Homo sapiens: one gene and its partners. The protein of the gene in region 1 interacts with the protein of each later gene in a pairwise test. Each region holds a gene or a part of one and is shown on either strand. Other genes may lie near its edges.

Region 1 (7,499 bases):
GATGATTATGTGGCAGTGGCCATTCTGGCTGTATTCATTTCTCTCCTTGGGTATGAGGGTCATTCCAGTAGATTCAGAGCTTATGGTCAAAAACTGAAATACACATTGTTGCTACCAGTAATCTTATACTGTTATTCTCCAATGGTTTCTTTTCCTAGTATTGAGAAACTGTAAGAGAACTAAGGTGTTTTTGGAAAATTGAAGTTAGTAAATGGAAAAAGAACACTGTCTTGGTGTGGTAGGCAGAATAATGGGCCTCCAAAGATGTTTACATTCTCATGCCAGGAACCTGTGAATACATTAGGTTACATGGCAAAGGGAAATTAAAGTTGCAGATGGAATTAAGATTGCAAATCAATTGACCTTAAAATAGGGTAATTATCCTGAGTTATCCCATTGGGCCCAATGTAATTACAAGGGTCCTTAAAAGGAATAGGGAAACAGAAGACAAGAGCTTGTTGGAGGAAGATGTGACTGGAAGAAAGTCAGAGAGAGATACGACAATGCTGGGTTTGAAGATGGAGGATGGAGCCAGGAGACAAGGGGTGTGAGAGGTGTCTAGAAGCTGGAGAGGACAAAAAAATGGTTTTCCTCCTAGAGTTTCCAGGAACACATACCTGCTGACAGCTTAATGGTAGTGTATTTTGGACTTCTGACCTCCAGAATTGTAAAATAATAAATTTGTGTCATTTAAGCCATTCAATTGATAGTAATTGGTTACCACAGTAATAGAAAACTAGTATACTTGGCTTTAAAGCCTCTGACTTAGAAAAAAAACTTAACTCTTTTTGTACTTATATGAAATAAATGCAGTGACTCAGCTAGCCCTTTATGTATAGTAGATAACTGGTTAATTTTAGCTTTAACAAAAATGCAAGTTTTTTCCTACTTCATCCATGAAATTATGTGGAGGAGACATACATATGTGTAACAGTGGGCAATATGAGGATTTGTAAAGACTGGACTGTCAAGCGTGTCTGTGTGAAGAGACCACCAAACAGGCTTTGTGTGAGCAATAAAGCTTTTAATTCACCTGGGTGCAGGCGGACTGAGTCTGAGAAAGGAGTCAGCGAAGGGAGATGGGGAAGGGGTTGCTTTATAGAAGTTGGGTAGCTAATGGAAAATTACAGTAAAAGGTGGTTATTTATTGTTAGCAGAGAAGGGGGTGACAAGGTACATGGTGGGGAGATCATAAGACTTATTGTCCAGAAGAAGAATGTCACAAGGTCGGTTGATCAGTTAAGGTAGGGCAGGGACAAGTCACAACGGTGGAATGTTGTAATGTTGGTTAATCAGTTAAGGCAGGAATTGGCTGTTTTACTTCTTTTGTGGTTTTTCGGTTGCCCCAGACTTCTTGGCTCCTGCAGGCCATCTGGATGTATATGTGTAGGTCACAGGGGTTACAATGGCTGAGCTTCGGCTTAGAGGCCTGACATGGACAACTTTGGAAAAACTAGGTCTTTACTATGAAGTATTTCAGAGACTATCATTAAGTAACATGTCAGGCCAGGAGAAGAAATACACTTAATTGGAAATAAGCTGGAAAGAAAGAAAATTTAAACTAGCTGTTACTCAAATATTAACACTTTCTTAGTCAATATCACAGCTGATGAATTTTCTTCAAGTGATGTGGATTCATTCACTAGCAAAATGATTATGCTGTGTGTTACATGATAATTGCCCCAAAAGATAATAAAGAAGAATTAGGATAAAACCAACATAAATAAATGAAAAGAAAAAGGCAAATGTATTTTGAGGTCTTAAAGTAGTATTTGGGGTATAATAGGTGTTTAGTAAATGTTTAAGTAAATGGAAGCTTTCTCTTCCCAAATTTTCATTGAGTATTCTTTTCTTGTCCTGTCTCCTCCCAAAAACATTCAAAATGATAGGAATTTAAAAATGTATCAACCAGAACATTATTCATATGTATATGGTAGAGTCTAACAGATGAGTCAGAATCAACTTCTTTGAAAACCATGAACTGGATTTTTTAGAAAACTTAAAATATTGATGATGGATGTAAGACATCTTGATTTTTAAAGATTGAAACATATCTGGGAATCCCATTGGCTCTAGTTTGTAGTACTGGCCATTTTGAGAGTCATCCTCTCTTAGGGCCGTATCATACCCATTATTCCTCCTAGACTGGCTTTTCATTCATGTCATGGCAGAATATTGTTCAGGCCCTGCCTACTCAAAGTGCGGGCTGAGGACCAGCAGGATCAACTTTGTCTGGGAGCCTGTAAGAAATGTGGCATCTCCAGCTCCACCCCAGAGCTTCTGAATCAGAGTCTGCATTTTAATAAGATCATCAGGTGATTTCTATGCACATTCAAGGTTGATAAATGCTGCTCTAAGTTGCATTGTTTTTTCATTTACATGGATTAATTGTAGGACCCTGTAGAGCAGTCTTAATATATGAATTCTGCCTATTTTCTTTGTTTTTTTTTTGAGACAGAGTTTCACTCTGTCACCCAGGCGAGTGCAGTGGTGATCTTGGCTCACTTCAACCTCCGCCTCCCAGGTTCAAGAAATTCTCCTGTCTCAGCCTCCCGAGTAGCTGGGATTACAGGCACCTGCCACCACACCTGGCTAATTTTTGTATTTTTAGTAGAGACAGGGTTTTACTATGTTGGCCACACTGGTCTCAAACTCTTGACCTCAAGTGATCTGTCTGCATTGGCCTCCCAAAGTGCTGGGATTACAGGTGTGAGCCACCGCGCCTGGCCTGAATTCTGCCTATTTTCAAAACATATTACAGATTGACTTTCACTGTGATATAACAAAAAAATGTAAGAAATTACAATTTGAAAATAAAAGAAAGATATGTTTCAGATACGAGAGATGGGTTAGTTATTGCTATTGAGAAACAAATTTAAATAATCTTCAGGGCAACTAAGGTGAAAAACAATACACATTTGATTGTATTGTCCTTATGTTGAAAGAAAGGAGGTATAACAATTTATTGGGAAAAATACAGTTCTTTCCAGGCACTGACTTTTCAAGGTAATTTATCACTCAGATATTTATTTAAAGAACATTAAGGGTGGGTATGGTGGCTCACACCTGTAATCCCAGCACTGTGGGAGGCCATGGTAGGAGGCTTGCTTAAACCCAGGAGTTCGAGACCAGCCTGGGCATCACAGCAAGGCTCCCACTACAAAAAATTAAACATTATTTGGGGGTGCTTGCATGTGCCTGTAGTCCCAGCTATGTGGGGGCTGGGGCAGGAGGATGACTTGAGCCCAGGAGTTCGAGTTTGCAATGAGCTATGATAGTGCCACTGCACTCCAGCCTGAGTGACAGAGCCAAATCCTGTCTGTAAATAAAAATAAAAAAAAAACATTGGTTAGCATAGTAGATAATGTCTTTGATTGGTTTTTAGTGTAATATATAGAAAAATTTTTATGGTTAATGTTTCTTATTTGATGGTTTTATGAAAGCCAAAGGCATGGTCTTATATTTTGGCTAGGTGAAGGCATTTTTGTAGAAGTTTAAGGTAATATAATCTAGGTACTTTTTTTGTTATCTAAATCTGTATTGCAAAGGAATTTCAGAAAACCAGAGAGAGATGAGGATAAATAAAGTCTCAGATGTGGAAAAGCTTGGGGTGCTCAAAGAATAGGAAATAGTCAAGTGTACCTGGACGATACCATTTTTGCTTTTAGACATGCTGAGAATTTTTGACATTTAAAAAATGTTAAAGAGGGAAAATAAGCTGCTTAAGTATACTACATTTTGCATTTGAGTTAGTCTTATATTTATTTACATACTTATCATAAAACATATTCTTGTCTCTAGTTCATGACTTAATTTTAAATAGGAAATAAAATACCTTGAGAAGAGATTCTGCATGTCATTATGTAACTATGGTACTTAGTTTTGCCAGTCAAAACCACACATTGCCACGTGAAGGCCAGTAGTTTATTGAGTACTCAGGGAACAAAATTAGGTGGATTTTTTTCTGTTTTTTGTTTTTTGGGGTTTTGGATATTATACAGAGAGTGTAAAATTGCAATTTTTTTCTTCAGGAGACTCAGACTTGACCCTAAAATATGCATATAAACTTGAAGGCTCAAATAATGTTTTTTCCTAACCTGGAGGAAGAATTGTGAGAATAATGCTTTGCATAGAATCCTCTTCACCTTCTTTGCATGTTTCTTTTGGATCAGGCATAAAATAGGGGCCTGGTTTTGTTAGAGTGGGGGAAATAGTTGATGATATAATCACCCATTCCCTCTTAGTTGCAAATGGTATTGAAATTACAGAAAGTCATCTGACCACTAGTTGAGGTCACTTCTTTTCCCATTCCTGCCATTCCCCCATGTCTGGTATAACATTTGGCAAAATTGGTAACTGCTCTTGAGGGTTTTCATTTGTTTCTGTGTGTTCCTCTGAAATGTCATGTTTCTGGGGGAAGCAAGAACAACAGTACAATTTTCCACATTGAATCAGATGTTCATGTGATCCAAGCGTGCTTGGAAAAATCTTACTGCTTAGGATTCTATACAACATAGCTCTCTTGTGCAGTCTGTAGTTAGACAGTTAAAGGGCCCATGCCTCACCTGCAGGGTAGCCCTTCTGAGTGCGGTGGAAGCAGAGCTTTCTTGGAAAGTGAGACACCACTTGATCAGATCCATTGTGGAATTGAACAAGATGTAAGACAGAAGCATGGAATTCTGAAAAGTCAGACAATGCATTAGTGCACTCACATTGTCTTATATTTAGGTCTGTCAGGTTGTGTTATAATTTTAAAAATTAATTTCAAAAGCGATACATACTTATTATAGAAAATTTGTGCAAATACAGGAAACAATAGAAATACAGGGAAGAAAATATAGTCCATCTTAATTCTCCCTAATTTTCCTTGCATCTTAGCATTTTAGTGCTTCAGGATGGTATTTATTTTGGAACTTTAGTACATACAGGAACATAGAGAGACTACAGTATATATGTATATGTGTGTTCATACGTATGTAGTCAGATATCAGAAAAAATCATATTCTTTAAAACTTATTTTAAAATTACGGATATCACTTAGAGATACTGATGTTAGTATTTTGATATTTGACTTTTCAGTCATATATATACTTCTGTTAAAAAAACAAAAAATTCAATATGAACATATGGTTTTTATAAATTCTTCATCCACATACACTAAAATTTATTCCTTTTTTTTTTTTTCTCTTGAAATGGAGTCTCACTCTGTCGCCCAGGTTAGAGTGCACTGGCGTGATCTCGGCTCACTGCAACCTCCATCTCCTAGGTTCAAGTGACTCTCCCGCCTCAGCCTCCCGAGTAGCTGGGATTACAGGTGCATGCCGCCACTCCTGGCTAATTTTTTTGTATTTTTAGTAGAGACGGGGTTTCGCCATGTTGCCCAGGTTGGGCTCGAACTCCTGGGCTCAAGCGATCCACCTGCCTTGGCCTCCCGAAGTATTGGGATTACAGGCATGAGCCACCGCGCGCGGCCAATTTATTCTTTTTAGTATACAATACTGTAAGTTTTGACAGATGCATAGTTTTGATAGATGCACAGTTTTGATAGATGCACAATTTTCCAGAGTGGATGTGCCATGTTGCATTACCACCAGCAATGTGTGAGAGCTCCACAGATGGGAACTCATATTGTATCTTCAGAGTGTGGCGTTGTCAATTTTTCTTTTATTTCAGCCATTCTAATAGGTGTGTAGCACTATCTCATTGTGGTTTTGAGTTCCCCTCATGACTGAAGTTGTTAATTATCTTTTCCTGTGCCTTTTAATAATATATTCATGTTCTTTGTGAAGTTTGCCCATTTAAAAAATACTGGGTTGTTTTATTATTATTAAGCTTTGAGAGGTTTTATGTTTGCCAAATGAAAGCTCTTTGGCAAATATGTGATTTGCAAATGTTTTCTTCCTGTCTGTAGTTTATTTTATCAATAGTGTCTTAAACAGAGCAAAAGTTCATTTTGATGATACAAAATTTACCATTTTTCTTCTTTTTATGGAACCTCCTAGAAGTTTTAAAGTTTTAGGTTTTACATTTTTATCTATAATCCTTTTTTTCTGGTATATGTTGTGCAATTTTCCCTGCACCGTGTCTTGAAAAGATTGTCATTTTGCCATTGAATTACGTTTGCACCTTTGTCAAAAATCAATTGACTACATTTGTGTGTCTGTTTCTGGATTCTGTTCTGCTCCACTGATGTGTGTGTCCCTTCACAGGTACCACACATTGTTGATTGCAGCTTTATAGTAAATCTTCGAAGCAGGTAGTGAGAATCATCTAACTTTGTTCTTTTTCAAAATTTGTTTATGCTATTCTAATTACTTTTCCTTTTTGTTTAAATTTAGAATAATCTTGTTAATATCTACAGATAATTGTACTTGGATTTTTTAGTAGAATTTAATTGAATCTATAAAACGATTTGGGGAAAGTTGGACATCTTAACAATATTTACTTTTCCAACCCATGAACATGACATATCTCTTCATTTATTTAGATTTTTAAATTTCTTTCATTGATGTTTTGTAGTTTTCAGCATATAGTTTGTGCGTGTATTTTGTTAGGTTTATACCTATTTTATTTTTGATTAGTGCTATTGTGAATGGTATTTTTAATTTTTTTTTAGAAATTTTTATTTTCTTAGTCCATTTTGTGTTGCTATCACAGAATACCACAGACTGGGTAATTTATAAAGAAAAGAAACTTATGTCTTACAGTTCTGGAGGCTCAAAAGTACAAAAGCATGGTGCTGGCATCTGGTGAGAGCCTTCTTGATGCACCATAGCATGGTGGAAGGCATCACAGGACAAGAGAGGCATAAGAGAAAGAGCCAAACTAGCTTTTATGACAGACCCACTCTTGTGATAACTAACTCTCCTGTGATAATCTGTTAACACATTAATCCATTAATGGCAGAATCCTCATGACTCAATCACCTCTTAAAAGGCCTTACTTCTTAATACTGTTAGATTGGGGATTAAGCTTCCACATGAATTTTAGAGACAAAAACATTCAACGGCAGTGACCCTTTTATATTTAATTGACATTTTAATTGAGGTAATTGTAGATTCACTTCAGTTGTAAGAAATACAGAGAGATACTGTGTAGGCTTCACCCACTTTCTCCCAGTGGTTACACCTTGCAAAACTGTATTATAATATCACAACCAAGATATTGATATTAAAACAGTAAAGTTATAGAACCTTTCCATTATCACGAAGATACCTCATGTAGCCCTTTTATGGCCACAACTACCTTCTCCCTTTGACCCATCCCTAACCTTTGACAGCCATTAATTTGTTCTTTCTATGATTTTTGTCATTTCAAGAATATTGTGTATCCATAACCATACATATGTGACTTCTGGGGATTGCTTTTTTTAAAAATCAGAATAATTACCTAGAAAGTCACCCAAGGTGTTACATGTATCAGTAGTTCGTTCCTTTTTAATTGCTAGTAGTATTACATAGTATGCATACACCACAGTTTAGCCATTTATCCGTTAAGGG
Region 2 (7,655 bases), on another chromosome or scaffold:
CTCCTTGCCTGTAGCTTGCACACGAGCTATTTCCAGCTCTCTGCATTTCTCCCTGTAATGATGATGACTGATGCAATGCAAGCAAAATGTTCTCAGATCTGAGCATTTCGAAGGATGTGTCATTACAGGAATAATTATAACTGCTTTATTGTGAGTCTCTAAACCTCTAAATACCCTTTAATAATCAATAGCTTTTTTTCCCCTGGAGGTTTTGTTGCCTGGTTTTCCAAAGAACAGTTATGTAAGGAGTGGCAGCTTGCCAGCTGGGGTTGCTGCAGGGGGAGATGGTTGCTGAGGCCCCTTTGAGCAAGTCTGCCACAGGGCCACTTTCCCTGGTCTCTGAGGTTCCGTTTCTCATCGGCTCCACCACTGTATAAACAAAACCTGTCTTTTAACCTTTTGGGGGATGATGAATTTATAGAAATGCAGCCTAAACCCACACAAATTTGCATCCATTTTAAAGAGATCTTGAATTCTACTTAGTAGGCCCAAGCTGAAAGCCTGGCCCAGAGGATCAAACCTCAAAGACTGGCCACACACTATGCACATTCCACAAGGTCCCCACACTGGATAGGACCTTAGAGGTCATCTTTCTAGCTCTACTTCCAAGGTGTACAGATGGGGAAGCTGGGGCCTGGAAGGGGCAGAGAGCTGGGACTCGAGCTCCATCTCCCCCTCTCCTGTCTGCAGCACCCCGAATCTGCTTCTTCTGTGCACCGCCATAGGGCCTTTCAATAACCCCCCACCTCTGTGACCTGATGAGTCTCACCACCACATGACACTGCAACAAAAGTCAGTTCTACATCTTACTCTGACAAAATGCTCTCTTGTGAGCTGAAACAGATTCTTTACCTCAGTAGGAGGATTTCAGAACAACCCCTTTGACTGACCCTCTTCCAAAGATGCCTCTTGGTTACATTAGTTTTATTCCTGTGGTTAAAACTCCTTGTGATGCCAGGTGCGGTGGCTCAAGCCTGTAATCCCATGGGAGGCCGAGGCAGGTGGAGCACCTGAGGTTGGGAGTTCAAGACCAGCCTGACCAACATGGAGAAACCCTATCTCTACTAAAAATAAAAAAATTAGCTGGGCATGGTGGTGCATGCCTGTAATCCCATGCTGCCTGTAATTACATGCATGCCTGTAATCGGGAGGCTGAGGCAGGAGAATTGCTTGAACCCGGGAGGTGGAGGTTGTGGTGAGCTGAGATTGCATCATTGCACTCCAGCCTGGGCAACAAGAGCAAAACTCCGTCTCAAAACAAGCAAACAAACAACAACAACAAAAAAACTCCTTGTGAGAGAAAGGGCGGACAGCATCCATTATAGTTTTCAATGTCCTTTCATTCTAATTTACTCATTACTTATTGAGCATGTTATTAATGTGTACTTAAGACTTTGGGTAACATATGGATTATATACGACATATATTTTTGCATCTTCTTCTGATATCAATAGGAAGATTGTTCTTATGAGGAGTTTAAATACTTTACAAAATAAGTATAATTTAAATATTATTTTTGGCCGGGCATGATGGCTAATGCCTGTAATCCCAACACTTTGGGAGGCCGAGGTGGGCAGATCACTTGAGGTTAGGAGTTTGAGACCAGCCTGGCCAACATGGCGAAACCCCGTCTCTACTAAAAATACAAAAAATTAGCCAGGTGTGGTGGCAAGTACCTGTAATCACAGCTACTCGGGAGGCTGATGCAGGATAATTGCTTGAACATGGGAGGCAGAGGTTGCAGTAAGCCAAGATCACACCATTGCACTCTAGCTTGGGCAACAGAGCAAAAACTCCATCTCAAAAAAACAAAACAAAAACAAACAAACAAAAAATACAAAAATTAGCTGGGCATGGTGGTGCAGTCCTGTAATCCCAGCTACTTGGGAGGCTGAGGCACAAGAATGGCTTGAACCTGGGAGGCGGAGGCTGTAGTGAGCCGAGATCGCGCCACTGCACTCCAGCCTGGGTGACAGAGTGAGACTCCGTCTCAAAAAAAAAAAAAAAGAAATATGATTTTTAACAGAATATGAGGTAATTAAAAAGCAATCCAACTAAGGTGACAGTGCATCCACCTTGGGCCTGGCACTAGCTGGAAATCACTGCTCCACTTGCATTAAGCTTACCCGTGGAGAAGCCCTGGTCCCAGGATTTTAAGGGTGCTATGCGCTCAGTCTCCACAGCACCTCCTCTGGAGGCGACCTCTGCTGACACTCTCTTCATACCAACGAGGTGAATTTGCCCGGGTTACTTCCTGGTAAACTACGAAGCCACAGTGTAAGCCTAGGCCTGGGGACAGGCTAGAATGTAAGCCTAGGTCTCCCACAAGCCCGCGCTCTTAGTGCCTGGGGACACAGCCCCTGACCTCAAAGATCTGCAGAACGTGAAGGACTAGATTTTGAAATTTCACCTCATAAAATAAAATAGGTTCCAATAAGTCATTAGGTCTCAAAGACTCATTTAGCCATTAAATATAACAAGACACGTATCTCCCAAACACAATATTTTATGCCATATTGTCAAATGCATTTTCTAGTCACACCATTAATTCCAGTTTCCAGATTATTTTACTGCGATGCACCGTTGGACAGCTTGCTGAGAATTCACCTAGGACGGTGTTTGTGCATGGAAACACCTCGTTGTCCAGTTTGGAGGGGTAAGCAAAAGACGCTGGGATGAGTTCACACTGGGTTTGGTTTTATCTTAGGCATGTTGCTAGTGTATCTGAACCTCAGCTTTATCACTGGAAAAATGGCTCTGATGATACCTACCTTGTACATTTGTTTGAGGAAAAATGAGAACAAGTCTAAAGCTACCGGCACAAGCTCTCAATCAGTGGTAGTTATATGTAGCTGAAATGGGGCAATGGAGAGTCTAGACTGTTTCTATTTTAGACATTATTATCATAAATGAAAAGCTTAAAACTACAGTACATACCTTTTCTTTCAAGATGAAGGCAGTTTCCAGATGCAGAATCAGCCGATTTGAGATGCCTGTCTTGGTGACTGGCCTCTCCCAAGCTATTTTATAAGCTTCTTCAGGTCTCTGATGTTTACTTTTCATGCATGCCACGCCCGCCGCCCCCATCCAGTCAGGAGGGTTGGCCTAAAAGCTTAGTCTGTATCGAAACACAAAGATGGGATGTTGTGTCCATCCTCCTCCCCCGATTTCCTTCACAGCTGCTCCCTGAAGAAGAAATGAGATATTGTTTTCGCGCGCGCGTGTGTGTGTGTGTGTGTGTGTGTGGGTATGTGTGCGAGAGAGAGAGAGAGTATGTGTGAGAGAAAGATAAAGTATATTTTCATCCAAAACATTTTTTTTTTTGCTATGTGGATTTTCTAATTTAATTTTTTTGGTCAGAATGCACTTTTAAGTTCCAGCAGGACGTGTTGCAACATGTTTTCAAACATCTGGTATTTATTTTTCATTTTTGTGTAAATGAAAAATCAACAAGCTCATTTCCTGAAGTGGAACATGGAGTTCCTGACTCCACTAATGGGAGTCAGGTAATGGCGCGAGGGTTATGAGTCAAAGCTGGCTTTCTCCAGGATCCTGGGCAGCCCCCTAACTTCTCTGAGCCACAGTCTCCTCGTTGTAAGTAGGGGCTGTCATTCTTTCTCCACCAGAGCCAGACGTGTAGGGGAGATACCAGTTCTCTAACAACTGGGGCTAAAAGTTGAGAATGCAGAAGACATCTTCTGTCGCTCTGTTCTCTGTCCCTTTTATGACCCTTGCAGCGAGAAGTTCAAGACAGTCTGTCACTGCTTGGGGGTGGGGGCCGGGGTGGTGGGGAGTGTGGACTTAAACCCAGGGGTGCTTTTGGTCCAGCCTTATCTCTCCTGGTGGAATGAACAACTTTGACTCTTGTGAGTGAGATTCTATGTCTTTGTGATAGGCAGGAGGTATGTTTAGAGACATTTAGATAAGGCAGTGCCTTCGTAGTAGACTTAGACTCCTAAATGAAATTCATTCTAAAATATGTAAGCAACAGAGATACATTTACAGCACTGAGTCTATAAACATGAAAACAACAACACAGATCCGTAACATCCCAAACGTTGTGAGCGCTTTCTTTAAGATGTTCTTTGCCTTTTCAGAAACATAAGAAATTCCTACTACCACCCAGGGCCTGCCTCTCGCTGACCTCCTGTGCTGCCCTCCCCTAAGAGCTCTGTGTAGCTCCCTTCCCCACTCCAGGTCCCTGATCAGATGACACTTTTCCCTAAAAAGCTTCCTGACCTTTCAAAAATAGCACTCTTGTCACTGTCCCTTTCCCTGCTTCATTATATCTTTACCTGAAATTCTCTCCTTTATTTATACATTATCCTGCTTAGTATGTTTTCCCCAGGAGGATAGGAGCTTGAGGCGTGCCAGGAGTTTGTCTCTTTGACTCTGTGTTGTGCCCCAGTGGCTAAGCACATACTAAGTGCTCAGTAAATACTTATAAATTAAATGGATGCTATCCAAAGAACTTAATGAGTTTCTAAGATATACAAAAGGCCCCAGAGGTAATATTCACGCGATTTTGATTTCAATTGTATTTCTGGAGAAGCACTAGCCTGTATGTTTCTGTCTTCTTCACCTGTATCACATTTGCCACCAAGAATTGCCTGTCATTGAAGAAATACACAGTTAGCCTCTTTTCAGCCTATTACAAAAAATTCTCTCTCCTCTAAGCAGTTGCACAGTTTTCCACAAAGCACTGTTGCCTAAGTTTCCAAATATGTATGTTGGAGTTGGAGATATCTATGTATTTTAGCCCTCAGCACTGAAGTCGGCAACCATGGAGCTGAAGGTCCAGGTCTAGGAGTCACAGCGGGAGAAAAGCCACACGATCTTCCTAGGTCTCAGTTCATTTTTTCTGTAAATATTGGTAAGTGATATATTCCTTAGGGAAATCCTCTCTTCACATGTTTCTGGAATGTATAGCCAGTAACAAATTCTTAAGCAGCATAAAACAAATCAGACCTATCTTCTAAGCAAGTGTTTATTTTTAAGTCCCAAAATAAATACACATTTGTTCAAAACAATTAAAATAGCACCAAAATGCAGGACTCAGGAAATGTAAGCACCTCATAATCCCACACCTCAGAGATAAGCATTATTTTGTTTGTAATTATTCCTCTAGATCTTTCTATACAGATCCCTATGTAATAATAACAATATTCAATGTTCTGAAACTTTTTTTTTTTTTTGAGACCGACCTTCACTCACTCTGTCACCCAGGCTGGAGTGCAGTGGTGCAATCTTGGTTCACTGCAACCTCAGCCTCCCTGGTTCAAGTGATTCTCCTGCCTCTGCCTCCCGAGTAGCTGGGATTACAGGCGCCCGCCACCACACCCAAGTGATTTTTGTATTTTTAGTAGAGACGGAGTTTCACCATGTTGGCCAGACTGGTCTCAAACTCCTGACCTCAGGTGATCCACCCGCCTCGGCCTCCCAAAGTGTTGGGATTACAGGCATGAGCCACCGCCACTGCGCCCAGCCAAGAAACTTGTTTTTTAATGTAACAATGTATCTATCTTTCTATATCAGTACACATAGATCTACCTCATTCTTTCACCTGCTGCAAAATCTTGCTTTTACCTGAGAGCACATTTCTTTTTTTCCTTTCTTTTTTTTTTTTTGAGACAGAATCTCGCTCTCGCCCAGGCTGGAGTGGTGCAGTGGCCGGATCTCGGCTCACTGCAAACTCTGCCTCCCAGGTTCATGCCATTCTCCTGCCTCAGCCTCCTGAGTAGCTGGGACTACGGGGGCCTGCCACCATGCCCGGCTAATTTTTTTTTTTTTTTAGTAGAGACGGGGTTTCACCGTGTTATCCAGGATGGTCTCGATCTCCTGACCTCGTGATCTGCCCGCCTCGGCCTCCCAAAGTGCTGGATTACAGGCGACAGCGCATTTCTTGAAGAGACAGTCTGTGGTCTGTGGTTTTTCCGGAAAGCAGTTCTTTGTTGGGTGATGATCTTTCATCATGGAGGTGATTGCCTCAGTGGTTTCACTCTCAGACCCGCAGGGAAGATGCAGTTATTTGAATGGACTCTTTGTGGCAAGAAATAGAGAACTATCTCATCTCCTAAAAAAACATGTTTCTGGATGAAGAATTCTTTATTTCTTAATAAGTGGTTCTTTCAACTACCAGAGTCATCCTGTATGCCTTTCTAAAGTGATTTTTCTTTTGTCAGTTAGAATAAAGGGGACGCACAAATGTACTTTTCGTGTGAAAATGCAGACTGAGAGGTTTCAGTAGTGCACCTTCACTCTTTAAGACTCGGCTCAAATGTCCCCCTCCCTGGGTCATCTTCTGGATTCCTAGCCCACCCCACGCAGCGTTCTCCCATCTGCTTTGTGTTTTCATGGCACATGTCACCCTGTCCTCACTCATTACACTATGCTTATGCCTCCATCTCCTTCTGGAGACGGTCAGATCCACCCAAGTAGGATTGTCTTTTTATCCCTGGCACCTTACATGATGCCTGACACGTAAGTGTTTACTAAATATTCCGTGAATGATGGAATGAATAATAGAATATGCTAGATTCTCAGTCCTTGCTGGGCTTGTTATAGACCTCATTATTCATTCAGAGGCCCTCTTTCCTCTCCCTCCTGTGCCCTGGTGGCCATTTCCCTTCTCACTGGGCTCTGGAACTAGTTGAAAGTTTAATGGTGCCAAGCATCTGGTCAACAGGAAGACAGCAATCAAACTGGTGAAAACAGCAGCTTGATATGGCATGCAGGGAAGAACACTGGACTGGGGGCAGGAGGCCTGGGTTCTGGTCCTAGCTCTGTTACTAATTTATTTATCCATTCATTCACGCATTCAACAACATATAGCAACACTACGTTGCTGTATGTATACACACACACACACACACACACACACACACACACACACACGGGGGTGCGGGGCACTGTTCTGAGTCCTGCAGATATAGTGGTAAAGAAGAAAGACAATGTCTCAGCCCTTGTGGGACTTACCTCCCAGAGGCGAGATAGACAGACAGACAGGAAAAATACCTAATTAGAGTGGGTTGAGGAGGGAGAGTACCTATTTTTCCTGTCTATCTGTGTGACTCTCCTCTGGGAGGTTAGAAAAGAGAATAGGATGACGTGATAGGAAGTGAAGGGTGCCCACTTCGGTCTGGTGGTCAGGAAGAGTCTCTTTGAATACTGACATTTCAGCTGAGATGTGAGTGATGAATGGGAACCAGTCATTCAAACACCAAAGGAAGAGTGTTCCAGGAAGAACTGCCAGTGCAGGGGTCCTAAGGTGGGAACAGACATTAAGTTTTTAAGAAATGGAGAGACCAGTTTGGCTGGAGCAGAGGTGAGGAGGAAGTGAGTGTGGAGAGGTAGACAGAAACCAGAATCTATCTTGCTTTGAGGACCTTGAATTTTATTTCAAGTACAGTAGGAGTCATGGGAAGGTTTTAGGCAAGAGCATGACATGGTTATTTGGGCTTGACTATCAAGAATGGAGAATAAAATGGTTACAGATGGATCAGCTGAGGAGCCCCTGTGGTCATTTGGGAAATAGTTTGATGGTGGTTTGGGCTAGAGTGATTAGCATACAGATGGAGAGAAGTGGGCAAATTTGGAATGTGCTTTGGAGATAAAGTGGACAAGACTTGCTGATGGGCCGCAGGTGGAAGATGAGG
Region 3 (8,482 bases), on another chromosome or scaffold:
ATTTTCTAAATGGCATCTTTTAACGTATAAAAGTTTTTAACTTAGAGTTGAATTTATCATTTAATAATTTTATGGTCATTGATATGGTCATTGCCAATCTGGGTCATGATACAGAAATCTTCATCTACTTTCAAGTTGCAAAGATATTCTCCTACTTTTTTTTCTAAAAGCTTTATAATTTTGGCTTTTATGTTTACGTGTATGATGCATGACAAATTAATTTTTGTGTATAGTGTTAAGTAGGGGTCAAAGTTCAATGTTTTTCAGTTGTTTAGCACCATTTGTTGAAAAGACTTTCCGTTCCTGGTCTGATTATTTTGGCGCTTTTGTTGAAAATCAAATAACTATAAACCCCATTGATCGATTTGTTGATACTAATGCCACGCAGAGTTACATTCCAGTCCTCCAGAGCCAGTCTACAAATCACGCAGAAAAGCTGGTTGCTCTGTTTATAGTCACATGCAGCTAGCTAGTCTCCCCCCACCAAGTAAAGTGTAAATTCCTGCAGAAGAAAACCCATCTCTTCCATTTCAGTACATTCCTCACAATGCTATGCTCATACTAGGGGTCCAAACAATTACTGAATAAAACAAAGGTCAGAGTCAAGTTACAAATGATATTGTAGAAACTGTTGAAGCATAACTATGGCAAAGAAGCATTTTAATATAATTGAGAAAATGGCGGGAGAAACAGACTATTGTTTTATTTCCTTTCCAGATAGTCTATTTATGTTTAGACCTCTTTCAGTACTAATGTTACCAGTGGTGCGTGCGCACACACACACACACACATTGAACACAGAAAGAAAATAAAAATGAATGTGCATTATTAAATAGAGTGCATTGCTAAATAGTTTTTTATTTATAATTCATATAGTCTCCCCACTTCCTACAATGATGAGGATGGGTTTAGGAGGCTTTCATTTGCTAACATTGATTTTAATTATTATATATACTAAACTGTTTGTAGCTCTCTCTGCGTTTATCTTGTGATGAATTATTTTTAATGCCTACTACATATTGCATTCTAGGTGGTGAAATTCTTGAAAACTCAAACAATGGACTGAAAGTCATCCCTCTTTATCATAGGGAAGCCAAATGCTCCATTGTCCTGACACTATTTCTTACATTGAGTGACTACATAAATATATAATATTCTCACACACATATGCAAAAAGCTGAGTAGCTGACAACTCAGTCTGCTGATTGACTGTATGATTTGGCCATTTTGAGCTTTGATCTGTCCAGATATAAAATTAAGGAAAACTAGGACATTAGTTAATCAAATAGATGCCTTATCTGCAATCGGATCTGCTGCTTGAACATATTAGGTGATATTTTGCATGCTCACAACTGTAGTCTACATTTCTGTTTTCATTAGCCTACTTGATCTGAGAATGTTTGATGCTGATTTTTGTCTTCTATCCTTCATTACACAGTACTTATTTTGCTTTTAAGCTTTTTGTTCTTTTGCATGCCATAGGTAAAATCAGCCAATATTCAAGGAATGCTGCTTCTTTTGCCCAAGTCTTAGCACCATCATTTTTGCTAGTTGCATTGACTGTTTTTTAAAAACCAACTTTAAGTTACTGCAGAACCAAGCATAATGTATTCTAGGTAGTCTATAAGCCATGATTTCTTTCAGAAAAATACAATAGACAAGGTTTCCACTAAACGTAGTCTTTGTACTTTCTTTGTTTCCTCCAGGTCATTAACCTTTTCACCTATAATCATCTTAGCGATAGGATTTAGGCAACTATTATGTAATTGATCATTAGCAAAAGAGTCCTGGTGGCAAAAAAGAAATACTTTTCTTTTGAAACATATGATAAACATTTAACCTCTAGATTGATGTTTCATTTCTTAACTGATTATTAAAAGAATCTTAATTCTACCTTAAACATTTAAAAATTACACAGAGATTACATTTATTTCAGAATCAGTCTTCAAGTGGTGAAAAGTTGTTGGTGATATTCACATTCTATAATACCCAATTAAATGTTGCTTATATTTTATATTTTATTTTTGTTATATTTTATATAGCCAAGAAAATGCCTTTATTTTTTGGAGGAAGGTGGCTGAAGTATTTGGGGGTGAAGTACATGACATCTGTAATTTACTTTAAAAGCTATTATCTACCATCTATCTTTTTAATCTTTAAGCAAATGTAGCAAACTGTAAGCTGTTGATTTTATGTCATAGGTATATGTGGGTATTTGTCCTACTATTCTACTTTTCTGTATGTTTAGAATTTCCATATTAAACAGTCCACAAATCCATTCATAGTCTTTGATAAGCCAAGTCTTATGACATAATTGTCATGTTATGCTTCCTGGGTTTTTTTTTTTTTTCTCACATGCAAGATCAAAGAAGCTGCCCTCTATGTTATTTTAGGCCCTTTTCTAGGTATAAGGTCTGAATTCTTACAATTTGAAGACTTTCTACGTGCTAAGAGGGTGAAGTTTAGAAAGAATGTAAAGATAGTTAAACCTACCACTTTTCATCTAAATAATTAAATTGAGGTCAATCAAAACATGCCTAGACCAGAAAGTGTTAAGCTGCTTTAAGAACAACATATAGATTCATTTATTATTGTTCATTTCCATTCATACATGTAGAACATAGAACATAGTAGCTGCTGATGTTAGGGAACCGTTTACTTTAGAAGAACAACCTTTCCTTGGGTTAGAGGTAAACGGCAAAAGGAAAGGCATCTTAAAAAGCAAAGAGAAATAAACTGGAGAACTGAAGAAGGTATGGCCAGAATGAATTTCCTTTGCTTTTTAAGGGAAATGAAATAGCATGTACTCACTTCTCCTCAATCATTTGCTTTTGATACTCCTCATACTCCTCTCTAGTCATCCCTTGAGCTGCTGCAGGATCAGATGCACCTCCTTCTTCTTTATTTTCTTCAGACCCACCACCAAATCCTAAATTCTTTACCTGGTTACTTATCATACTTTTCATAAGGAAAGCCATTTTCTCTGCCCCAGAAAAATAAAACCAAAATTCAGACAAAAGCTGAAAAAAAAAATCCAAACAAACCCAAGAGAAAACCTCCAAATATTCTCAATGACAGCAATACATTTAAGAGCAAAGGACTTTGCACAACCTCATCTATTCAAGGGCATACTGATAGAGAAGAGTGGTTTGTCGGCCGTAAGCTGGATTAAAGTGGTGAACTCCTTAGTATATAGAGGCAGATGGTTCAGATTACCGAAGCATACAATCAGAGGCAACTGCCTACCTTCTGAATTAATACACTCAGCTAATTTCACAGGAAAAAGAAATCCCCACATCATCTACCCCTTTCTAAATTTTTAATTATAAGCACAGCAGGGCTTCATCAAGAGTCCTGTTTCAATTAAATTAATCAGAGCTGACTGATTATATAGCTGTTGTGGAATTTCCAAATTCCAGCCCTTGAGCAAAACATCCTGTTGAAAAACTGAGTCCAATGAGACTCAAAACCCAGAATGCTTCATTAAGCAAAAATAATCCTTTCGATCCATCATTTTATCTCATTGGACTTTAAGTACTATGCAAGGATTTGCTTTTTAGTTTGCTTGAATTCGGTTTGCTTCAATAGTTACTGTGTCCCGCACATAAATACACAACTGACAAATGCAAAGACCCAGACAGCAGGTCCTTGGTTTACATCTGGAAGATTATCTTAGCCTTCTCCTGCATGGAAATATTACTTGTCTATATGGAAATGATGTGCTTGACACTTCAAGGCTCTGATCCAGAAGGTAAGACCATTATGTGAGTCAAATCATCAATATGTAAGGGGTCACCTTTTTTCTCTTGCATAAAGAGTGCACCTCCTGGGTGCTCTATTTAAGCTCACTGGTGTACTTGGATGAAACTGACAATGTTTTGTATCCCACCAGATTCTCTATGGCTGTGGTTTTCTTCAGGTCAAGGGAAGAGTTGAGTATGGCTAAGACTTCAATCTACACTAGTATCTTTCTAATTAAAGCCTGCCAAAGAGGGTGGGGTGGGAAGGAAGAGATGTAATCCATTGTTATTTTATCTGAAGGCATGAGTCCTCTCAGAAACCAGGTGATTATCTCTCTGATCATATAGAATTACATAATCTGGATTCTTGCCTAAAATGCTTGCTTTATATATTTTATCGTCTGCTTTCCCTTTTAGTAATCTATTTTAAAATGCTGCTTAAATGGTCTCAATATGAAAGGCTAAAAAAGATAATTTAGGGTGAAATATAAGCTGTACTCAGGGCTTCGAGGAGAATGCCCATCAATATTGAGTTCCACTTTCTCTTTTAGATGGGTTGCTTGGAACTTAACACGTTCATACCATTATCTCTAAATTACCATTTATAATAAACTACATTGCAGTCCACTGAGGAATGTTACTAATTAATGTTGTCTCATAGAACTTTTCAAACCATAAAATAAAAGCCACAGCCTTGTGTTTCTGTCTGTTCGGTCTACATTTTATTATAAGTAATTATTTAGATTTATTATAAAATCTATTCTAAAAATTCCATTGTATGAGGAATTAGGAAATATTAATGGTGAGGGTGTCAATTCTAAACTCCAGCACCCATGTGTAAAGGAGTTTCTCCCTGTCCCGTCCTTTTCTGAATGTATGTTTGTGTGGAGGGGGTTAGGAAGAGGGGGTGTCATGCATTATGGGGACTCTTCGGTGGTAGCTTCAGCAGGGTCGCCGTGGAAGGTCTCCTGAGAGTGCTTTATGAAATCAAATATCTTATTATTTCCTCAACAGGTAATTCCATTGAGAATGAGGTCACGACTTAAAAAACTTTTTACTCCTTGATTTATTACAATGACCTTTGCCCTTGGACATCCAGGAACTACTAGCTGGTGTGTAGGATCTTTTTTTTTGGAGACAGCCTCACTGTGTTGCCCAGGCTGTAGTGCAGTGGCAGGATCTCAGCTCTCTGCAACCTCCGCCTCCTGGGTTCAAGCGAGTCTCCTGCCTTAGTCTCCCGAGTACCTAGGATTACAGGCATGCGCCACCATGCCCGGCTAAGCTTTTGTATTTTTGGTAGAGACAGGGTTTTGCCATATTGGCCAGGCTGGTCTTGAACTCCTGACCTCAAGTGATCTGCCTGCCTCAGTTTCTCAAAGTGGTGGGATTATAAGTGTGAGCCACCAAGCCTGGCTGTAGAATCTTGTAGAAATGGTGGTAGAATCTTCCGTTCCTTCAGAAAGGGGAAATGAATGCCCTGGATTCATGAATGGGACCTCTAGGTGTCCCCATCCCATGGCTCCCTACTGTCCTTGCATAGAATCCCCACTCCTTGCTGCAAGATTGCCCACTGCCTAGCTGCCAGCCTCTTCAGCCACACTCCCTTTGCTCATTCTAATCACATTCATGTCCTTGTTGGCCCTTAAACCAAGATTGCTCCCACCTATGTCCTTGTGGAACCTCCTGGCCTGTATTGCTCTTCCACATCTCTAGGTGGCTCACCCTTGCTTAATTCAGGTTTCTGTTCTCATTCACCTTCTTAGAGGGACTTCCCTGACCATCCTAAGATACCCTGCCTCCACTACCCCACCTTTTAATCCTCTATCCTATTCTATTTTTCTTCATAGTACTGCACTCTACCTGAAAGTATATTTTCCTTGATTTAGTTGTTTCCTTTCCATCTACTCCATTGGAATGTAAGCTCCATAAGAGAGACCAGTGCAATTTTGTTCACCTTTGCATCCCCATCTCTGAGAATCATGCTCAGCACATAGTAAGTGATCAATAAGAATCTTGGGGGAAAACAATGAATGAATGATTGCCACTAGGCCTAATGGCTTATTTTTGAGCAAATCGCTTTCAATGGAAGTAATCAAGGTACTACATCGGATGATGGAGGCACTTGGAGAGTTATCTTCAGGCAAAAGGGAGACAGGAGAATAGGGTCTGGGGGCAGGGAACCTAAGGCCAATTCATGCTGACTTCCTAGAACTAAATTAAAAGGAAAACCCCAACTTTCCACACCTAAGTAACAAAAGGACTGGAAGCTACTTCCTTACTCCCTTTGCAACTCCCGGCCCCCCACCCCCACCCCGACCCCCACCCCCACCCCCACCAACTTTTTCTACGTGGCAGATGGAAAATTCAAAGTATCTCTGATTGGCTGCTTTCTGCAGCCAATCAGACATTTGGATAGGAGTGTAACTTTGTAACTTCACTTCAGCCTCTAATTGGTTGCTTTCCACAACCAATCAGATACTTGCATAGGGTGTAACCTTTGTAACTTCACTTCAGTCTCTGATTGTTTGCTTTCCGCAACCAATCAGACTGATTGCAGGCCACTACTTCATTTACATAGGGTGTGCACCAAGTAACCAATGGGAAACCTCTAGAGGGTATTTAAACCCCAGAAAATTCTGCAAAGGGGCTCTTGAGCCCCTATGGTGGGGCCGCTTCCAGTCTGTGGAGTCTACTTTTGTTTTCCATAAATCTCTGCTTTTGTTGCTTCATTCTTTCCTGGCTTTGTTTGTGCGTTTTGTCTAATTCCTTGTTCAAAATGCCAAGAACCTGGACACCCTCCACCAATAACAGAAGTAGCATCTTAGTGCTTACAAATCCACCTCATAGTGGTTGCTGCCTTCTTTGCCAGCTCCCAGGATCAAGACTACTTGCCATAGTTTTTTAAAATCATGCCTCATTCTGATTTAATGGATCACCTTTGTAAACACAGATTCGTTGTGGCCTATTCAACTTGAAAATTTTGATGGTATCTGACCCAAAGAATTTGCTAAAGAAGCAATAATCCCATTAGTGGAATTAAATTTTAGAAAGAGATCACATTCAAACAGCATAAATCCATTTTGGTCCTTCACCTGGGATTTTTCTTTTCACATCAAATACCTAAATTTTGCTCCTGTAATTAAAATCGGCTAGTGGTATCATTTCTTTTTTGACCTTCCCCAAGGAAATCATGGTGATTAGGTTGTCCTGTCTCAGTTGTTATATCCTCTTAGCGGGTGACACAACATTTCAGGGGTAACCATGCAGCTAAACCTCTGTGCTCATGAAGGTCAGCAGAACTGAAGAAGAAAAAGGTCACCAAGCGCCAAGGCATGTGTCACCACACTTGGCTAATTGGCTAAGTGTAGAAATGATCTAAAGATGAGATTCACTGGGATTAATTTTCAACCTCTATTTTAACTGGGAAAAAAGAGGTAATATAAAAAGAGGAAAAAGTCTTGGGAAATAGAAGGACCATTACGGAAACCACAAAGGAAATTAAACACGTAGTCCTAATCCTAATAACTGCCTACTGGAGACATTTTAGTGGTTTGTGTTTTACCTAATAGAGTGTCATGTACATCATAGATGCTTAATACATATTTAATGAACTGTATTGAAATGCCAGGCCAAGTAGCATGTTTGTTTTCATTTCTATAGGATTGGTTAATATTCTTGTAGATACAAACTCAAGGCTATATACCAGCTGTGCAAAGAAATTCCCCAATCATGACAGTATGGTTTTCATTGAGCTACAGAACCAAAGAGTCTCTTCAGTACTACCTTGGCCCATTGTTATCTGATAGATTGTGAGACCATTTGTGACTCTGTGGAGACTCAAAGCATCTCAATCCTTTGTCTCCCAAAGTGGCCATTTTAAGAAATGTATCCCGGGCTGATTCTTCTGTCTTCCAGAAATATTCAGCAGTGTTATACCGAACGTTTCAAAATCTGTGTGTGAGTGTGTGTGTGTGTGTGTGTGTGTGTGTGTGTGACAGGGTCTCACTCTGTCACCCAAGCTGGAGTGCGTAACCATGGCTCATTATAGCCTTGACCTCCTGGGCTCAAGCGATCCTCCTGCCTCTGCCTCCTGAACAGCTGAGACTACAGGCATGCACCATCACACCTGGCTAATTTTTTATTTTTTGTAGAGATGAAGTCTTGCTATGTTGCCCAGGCTGGTCTCAAACTCATGGGCTCAAGTGATCCTCCCACCTTGGCTTCCCAAAGTGCTGGGATTACAGGTGTGAGCCACCATGCCTAGCCCCTAAAGTATTTCTTTTGCCAACACTGTATGACTGGTCTATTTCAGTTCACAGACATCACTTTCTGGTGAGGTAATAACTGTATTCTATTCCGTATCCTCTCTACCACAGAACTTCCATGTTGGTCGAGTGCTGAGTTGGTAGGCAATTCAGTGGTTGTTATTTTCTAACAGGACATGCTGGCTTCCATGATCTGATTGTAAATTGCCATGCTGGTTCTACATGGAAGGGGAAGATGGGCTGGGAACCAAAGATTAATTTTCTAACTTACTGTTTACACAGTGGGCTGACCAGTTTGAGCTGAGCTATGTTCATGCCTGGAATTCAGGTATATTTGGCAAATTGTAACATTCGTGGCATGGCTAGCAATAAGTCTATTTGCATTAAGTACTAAGGAGGCTCTTAGGAGAGACTCATCCAGAGCAGACACAGTAAGTTTGCCTCAGTTACAAAGCCTTAGTTCCCAGAGGCTTGAGG
Region 4 (7,499 bases), on another chromosome or scaffold:
TTCTCTGGCTGCTGCCCACTCCAGGGAAGAATAGAGTAATGGGTGCTCTCATGCTCTAAGTATGAGGGACACCTTCTCACGTGTCTCACAGTGGCAGCTCCATTTCCTCTCTCCATTCTAAGGAGATGCTGTCATTAGCTGTAGATATCCGTTCCTTCCTAAAACAGTGGCACCTTTCTTTTATCTTGAGTTGATTATCTCTTTAAAAAATTGAGATTTGGGTTGTTAGTTTCTCCATGTTCTGCCTAGAATGCACCCTTGTATTTAGGGCCATGCTGTCTGTAGATTCCGAGTCCAAGTGGAGTACACATAATGCATGTGCTTGTCCTGGAAGCCAGCCCTTGCGTCCCTACCATTTCCAGAGAGGCAGCAGACAGATCTGATTGTGAGCAAGTATGGCTAACCCCCAGCACTTGTGCTCTGATAGTCCTGTGACATCAAGACAGAAATGATGTAGCTTATGTTTTATGTGCTAATTTTACAGGGAGAAACCAGCAGAAACTGAGAGGAGAAGATGACTACAACATGGATGAAAATGAAGCAGAATCTGAGACAGACAAGCAAGCAGCCCTGGCAGGGAATGACAGAAACATAGATGGTAAGAATGGGGCCTACATCGGTGACGAGGTCACCTTTCATTTCTCTTTCCTGGTCCTTCACCGTGATTATCCAATGAATCCCCAAAATTATATTGTAATTAATGGGTCATTTCAAGGAGATCGTCTGTTCTTTAGGAGCTTTTAAACCAGGGGCAGTGGAGGGAAGTGAGGGTTGAGAAGCCCAAGGTGATGAAAACCATTCGGAAAGTCTGCATCGTTTCTAGAAACATATTCAGTGTGGCTCAACTCTTTAAGTAGGATGATTTTTCAGTGACATTTAGGGATTTCCCAACAAAATGGCTAGGTCACTACTTGATCAGTCTGCCTCCCAGATGAGAAGCCCCAGTATGTGCATAGAGCTTCCAAGCAGCTATGAAAGCTGCCCTTTGTATTATTATTTTGAATTTTTGAAGAGTCCAGGCCAGTATCTTGTAGAATGTATCAAACTCTGGCCTTGTCTGTTTGCTTGTGGTGGATTCAGGCTGATGAATTCTTGCTTCTCCCCAGGAGGCATAACAGCAGGTGGTCCTACAGGTGATTGGTTGATCCCTTAGCTAACATGGTGCCCACAAGGTCTCAGAAGGCCATTTTCCTTTTGATATTAATACGTCATCTAGAAGAGGATGCTTTGAACTTGTGTAGCTTTACCATCCATTGATGAACATTGCCCAAGTGGTGACATTTTACATGCTGCCATCACAGCACATTTATTACCTGACATTTTTTAAGGAACTCCTCTCCCTCCTCCAACACACTTGTTTGTTTTGGTATCACTATGGACTCATAGTATTCTTTCTTAAAATTCATTTTTCTGGGCCAAGTGTGGTGGCTCACACCTGTAATCCCAGCGCTTTGGGAGACCAAGGCAGGCAGATCAGCGGGTCAAGAGATTGAGACCATCCTGGCTAACACGGTGAAACCCCGTCTCTACTAAAAAGAGAAAAAATTAGCCAGGCGTGGTGGTGGGCGCCTGTAGTCCCAGCTACTCGGGAGGCTGAGGCAAGAGAATCGCTTGAACCCGGGAGGCAGAGGTTGCAGTGAGCTGAGATCGCACCGCTGCACTCCAGCCTGGGCAACAAGAGTGAAAATCCATCTCAACAACAACAACAAAAGAATCCAAGCCATGTGACTGTAGTTTCCCACAGCCTGAATACTGCTGATTATAGAGTCATGGGGGAGTTGAGTGAGTTCGCCTGGTCTCTGTTTTCTGTAGAGTGGCAGCTATACCCAGAGACTTGATGAGACTCAGGTCCTGGCTCAAGCCCTCGGTAAGGTGAGTGGTGGTGTGTTCTTTGGTTCTTTCATCGGGAGGCACGTCATGTCTGGCGTCTTTTTTTTTTTTTTTTTTTTTTTTTGAGATGGAGTCTCGCTCTGTCACCCTTGCTGAAGTGCAGTGGCGCGATCTTGGCTGACTGCAACCTGGCGTCTTTCTTTTTGTGATGCCAGTTGATGGTCAATGCCTGTATCAATTCATTTTTATGTTATTTGTTAATTGGAATGTTCTTAGAAATAGACACTTCAGCTGGGCGTGGTGGCTAACACCTGTAACCCAGCACTTTGGGAGGCCGAGGATGGTGGATCACCTGAGGTCAGGAGTTTGAGACCAGCCTAACTAACATGGTGAAACCCCGTCTCTACTAAATACAAGAAAATTAGCCAGGCGTGGTGGCACATGCCTGTAATCCCAGCTACTTGGGAGGCTGAGACAGGAGAATCGCGTGAACTCGGGAGGCAGAGGTTGCAGTGAGCCGAGATTGTGACATTGCACTCCAGCCTGGGCAAGAAGAGTGAAACTCCGTCTCGGGGAAAAAAAAAAAAAAAAAAAAAAAAACCTCAGTGGTATTGTTTGTATAAGGTAGATAGGATAAATGCTTGATTTCTTTCCTTTTTAACAGTTTTCATGACTATGAATTACTTCCCCATCTTCTCTGAGGGTAACTGCTTTTAAAATATCATCATAAACTTCAGAATTCAGCAGAAATCCTCAGGGCAGCAGGAGTCGTTGTAACAACTACTTCACTTCAGTTTCGGCCTTGCTGATCCTGCCGATGCCCTTTTTTTTTTTCTTCCTCAGATGGAGTCTCACTCTGTTGCCCAGGCTGGAGTGCAGTAGTGCGATCTCGGCTCACTGCAACCTCTGCCTCCCGGGTTCAAGCGATTCTCCTGCTTCAGCCTCCCGAGCAGCTGAGATTAGAGGCGCACGCCACCACGTCCAGCTAATATTTGTATTTTTATTAGAGACGGGGTTTCACCATATTGGCCAGGATGGTCTCCATCTCCTGACCTCATGATCCGCCTGCCTTGGCCTCCCAAAGTGCTGGGTGGCGTAAGCCACCACGTCTGGCTAACAATACCTTCTTTTATTACCATCTGGGCAATGCATTATTCATTTAATGTTTTAATACTTACATTTTTTTTACCTTTTCATTTTGAAATAATCTAGACTTCTTTAAAAAGCAAAAAATTTCTGTATACCCTTCACCCAGGTTCCCCAAATGTTAACATCTTATATAACCACAGTAAAATTACCAAAATAAGGAAATTAATGTTTATACAATGCTATTATCTAATCTGTAGACTTTGTTGAAATTTAGTGAGTGTCCAATTCATGTCTTTTTTTCTGGGTTCAGGATTATACACTGCATTTATTGTCAGACCTCTTTAGTGTTCTTTATCGTGGAGCAGTTTATCATTTATGTTGTTGGTCTTTTTTGAAGGGTAGTGGCTCAGTTATTTGGTTGAAAGTCCCTCAATCTGTGCTTGTCTGATTTTTCAACAATGTCCCCCTAAAAATTATCTTTTATATTTCTCCAGGATGTCAGTTGTTTCAATTGGCAGAGTTGTTTGGAATTTTTAGAATCCAAGTCCTAATTTGAATTTTCAGCTGTCTTCATTTAGGCAATTTTTTAAAAAGGCAAATGGCAAAATACACTAGCAGCCAGACTTTGAAGCAAATACAAACTCTCTGTTGTCATTGACTCCACTCATTTATGTTCTTGAGCATGTTTCACGGTCTGGTCACTGTCTTACTTCTATTCTTTTTTTTTTTTTTTTTTTTTTTTGAGACAGAGTCTCACTCTTCTTGCCCAGGCTGGAGTGCAATGGCACAATCCTGGCTCACAGCAGTCTCCGCCTCCTGGGTTTAAGTGATTCTCCTGCCTCAGCCTCCTGAGTAGCTGGGAGCTGGGATTACAGGCTCATGCCACCATGCCCAGCTAATTTTGTATTTTCAGTACAGACAGAGTTTCACCATGTCCACTAGGCTGGTCTCGAAATCCTGACCTCAGGTGATCTGCCTGCCTCAGCCTCCCAAAGTGTTGGGATTACAGGTGTGAGCCACCACCCCGGCTCTAACCACCTTTTAAATTGGGCCTAGTTTCCTACTAAATGATGGGCTTTGCGGTGAAGCCTTTTTGGATCTCTCATTCCCTACACTCAGGTGTCCTAAGGACTTGACCTTGTGCAAGGTTTTAAACAAAGTAAGTAGGTAAGGTAAAGAAAATGAGTGCCTTGTCAGCTCTTTGAAGAAGCTGAAGAAATGTCAACATCAGCTTCAACATTATTTTAAGATTGTGTCATTGAAACAGTGAGACCTTACTTGCTCCAGGGAAATTAGAAGAAAAAAGCATTAGCTCCAACTTTATTAAGAGCCTTTAACAGATACCGTTAATTTAATATGGCAGGTATTTAATGGTCATTAAACTACCATTTAATGTGCCATAGTTATAAATCAAGACCGTGGTTTTAGGTTTTATTTGTGATGTGCCTTTTTATGTTTTCTGTGTGTTAAAAGGATAGAGTAAGATCAGATGGTAGAAGCTACATACAGACATCAGCTCTGTAAAGGGAGAGCTTTGGAGTCACAAGAGCTGTCTGAAGCTGCAGACAGCTCTCAGGAGGCAGCGTGTGCCATTAGAAGTGCAGTAGCAAGGGAGTCACGCCGCACAGGAGCGTGGTGATTATATTTAAAATGTCATGAGTGCACTTGATACTGTCCATTTTCTATGGCATATGGGGCATTATGTCACTGTTACAAACAAGTATGGAATCTTTAGGTGCTTCAGCTTTGTTTCATGGCACATTGTTGGTCATCCATTTGGACACTTTGAAAGGGGAGGAGTTCCAGCTGGGCGTGGTTGCTCACGCTTGTAATCCCAGCACTTTGGGAGGCCAAGGCGGGCGGATCACGAGGTCAGGAGATCGAGATCATCCTGGCTAACAGGGTGAAAACCCGCCTCTACTAAAACTACAACAACAAAAAGAAATCAGCCGGGCGTGGTGGCGGGCGCCTGTAGTCCCAGCTACTCGGGAAGCTTAGGCGGGAGAATGGCGTGAACCCCGGAGGTGGAGCTTGCAGTGAGCTGAGATCGCACGACTGCACTCCAGCCTGGGTGATAGAGCCAGACTCCGTCTCAAAAAAAAAAAAAAAAAAAAAAAAGTTCCCTTATCCCCTTCACAGGGCATGCAATGGGGGTATGGCTTTCTTCTTCAGTGCCCCACAGCTCAAACCCCTAGGGGAAGCATGCGGACGGACAGGTTGTGGGGAGGATGGGTTTCAACCCCGCGGCAGCATCTAGGGTTGAGTGGTTACAGCTCCTGGAGCCCCACTGGGTGTGTGTTGCAGTGCGTTCTTTCAGCTTAGCTGTCCACAGGCAGCTTGTGTTAATCAGTTCAATTAGACCCTCTGCCTTATCGCAAGGACAGAGGGCTTTCTGTATCCCAGGTTCTTGCCCTAGTGTACTGAAAAAATCAGATCATGTGGGCTTGGAGAATGAATGCAAGATTTATTGAGTGGTGGAAGTAGCTCTCAGCAGATGGCTGGGGAGCCAGAAGGGGGATAGCATGGGAAGGTAGTCTTCCTCTGGAGTCTGGCTGCTCAGCAGCCGGGATCTCCTACTGTCCTTGGCCGAATTTCCCTTGGCGTCCGAATCGTTCCACCATCAATGGCCTGCCAGCGTCTTTCGATGTGTTCTTCTGCCAGTGTGTTCCTCTTGACGTCCAGCCGCTTGTGTGTGTGCCCGCTGGGGTCTCAGGGTTTTTATAGGCACAGAATGGGTGGCATGGCAGGCCAGAGTGGTCTTGGAAAATGCAACATTTGGGCAAGAAGACAGGAGTCCTTGTTCTCATTAGGTCCATGGGCACAAGCCTGAGGGTGGAGCCCTTGCCAGTGACCCTGCCCTTCTCTACCCAGCACTTCCCTGTCCCCCTCCCATATCACCGTTGCCATCTTGTCCTTGATGAGGAATACAACTCCCAATTACAGTGTTGCTGTGGGAGATGCAGTCCTCTTTATGACAGTTTCTAGAAGTTGATAAGAAAATGGGACCTGCCTAGGGCTAGTATCTCATTTAATACTCTATAGAATATTATGTGTTTTTCCTTTTTAGTTTTTAATGTTGAAGATCAGAAAAGAGACACCATAAATTTACTTGATCAGCGTGAAAAGCGGAATCATACACTCTGAATTGAACTGGAATCACATATTTCACAACAGGGCCGAAGAGATGACTATAAAATGTTCATGAGGGACTGAATACTGAAAACTGTGAAATGTACTAAATAAAATGTACATCTGAAGATGATTATTGTGAAATTTTAGTATGCACTTTGTGTAGGAAAAAATGGAATGGTCTTTTAAACAGCTTTTGGGGGGTACTTTGGAAGTGTCTAATAAGGTGTCACAATTTTTGGTAGTAGGTATTTCGTGAGAAGTTCAACACCAAAACTGGAACATAGTTCTCCTTCAAGTGTTGGCGACAGCGGGGCTTCCTGATTCTGGAATATAACTTTGTGTAAATTAACAGCCACCTATAGAAGAGTCCATCTGCTGTGAAGGAGAGACAGAGAACTCTGGGTTCCGTCGTCCTGTCCACGTGCTGTACCAAGTGCTGGTGCCAGCCTGTTACCTGTTCTCACTGAAAAGTCTGGCTAATGCTCTTGTGTAGTCACTTCTGATTCTGACAATCAATCAATCAATGGCCTAGAGCACTGACTGTTAACACAAACGTCACTAGCAAAGTAGCAACAGCTTTAAGTCTAAATACAAAGCTGTTCTGTGTGAGAATTTTTTAAAAGGCTACTTGTATAATAACCCTTGTCATTTTTAATGTACAAAACGCTATTAAGTGGCTTAGAATTTGAACATTTGTGGTCTTTATTTACTTTGCTTCGTGTGTGGGCAAAGCAACATCTTCCCTAAATATATATTACCAAGAAAAGCAAGAAGCAGATTAGGTTTTTGACAAAACAAACAGGCCAAAAGGGGGCTGACCTGGAGCAGAGCATGGTGAGAGGCAAGGCATGAGAGGGCAAGTTTGTTGTGGACAGATCTGTGCCTACTTTATTACTGGAGTAAAAGAAAACAAAGTTCATTGATGTCGAAGGATATATACAGTGTTAGAAATTAGGACTGTTTAGAAAAACAGGAATACAATGGTTGTTTTTATCATAGTGTACACATTTAGCTTGTGGTAAATGACTCACAAAACTGATTTTAAAATCAAGTTAATGTGAATTTTGAAAATTACTACTTAATCCTAATTCACAATAACAATGGCATTAAGGTTTGACTTGAGTTGGTTCTTAGTATTATTTATGGTAAATAGGCTCTTACCACTTGCAAATAACTGGCCACATCATTAATGACTGACTTCCCAGTAAGGCTCTCTAAGGGGTAAGTAGGAGGATCCACAGGATTTGAGATGCTAAGGCCCCAGAGATCGTTTGATCCAACCCTCTTATTTTCAGAGGGGAAAATGGGGCCTAGAAGTTACAGAGCATCTAGCTGGTGCGCTGGCACCCCTGGCCTCACACAGACTCCCGAGTAGCTGGGACTACAGGCACACAGTCACTGAAGCAGGCCCTGTTTGCAATTCACGTTGCCACCTCCAACTTAAACAT

What was found.
Region 2: the proteins of AIG1 (region 1) and APOD interact in binary tests that used the Homo sapiens proteins (3 or more experiments, as listed by UniProt).
Region 3: the proteins of AIG1 (region 1) and CPLX4 interact in binary tests that used the Homo sapiens proteins (3 or more experiments, as listed by UniProt).
Region 4: the proteins of AIG1 (region 1) and GOLM1 interact in binary tests that used the Homo sapiens proteins (3 or more experiments, as listed by UniProt).

Annotation. Positions count from the first base shown.
Region 1 is NC_000006.12:143,063,844-143,071,342, forward strand, and holds part of AIG1 (androgen-induced gene 1 protein), read left to right. Parts: intron 1-7,499. UniProt on the Homo sapiens protein: Hydrolyzes bioactive fatty-acid esters of hydroxy-fatty acids (FAHFAs), but not other major classes of lipids. Show a preference for FAHFAs with branching distal from the carboxylate head group of the lipids.
Region 2 is NC_000003.12:195,580,941-195,588,595, forward strand, and holds the start of APOD (apolipoprotein D precursor), read right to left. Parts: upstream 3,001-7,655; 5' UTR 2,938-3,000; intron 1-2,937. UniProt on the Homo sapiens protein: APOD occurs in the macromolecular complex with lecithin-cholesterol acyltransferase. It is probably involved in the transport and binding of bilin. Appears to be able to transport a variety of ligands in a number of different contexts.
Region 3 is NC_000018.10:59,315,485-59,323,966, forward strand, and holds the start of CPLX4 (complexin-4), read right to left. Parts: upstream 3,166-8,482; 5' UTR 2,979-3,165; coding exon 2,812-2,978; intron 1-2,811.
Region 4 is NC_000009.12:86,026,381-86,033,879, reverse strand, and holds part of GOLM1 (Golgi membrane protein 1), read left to right. Parts: intron 1-484; coding exon 485-598; intron 599-5,986; coding exon 5,987-6,063; 3' UTR 6,064-7,499.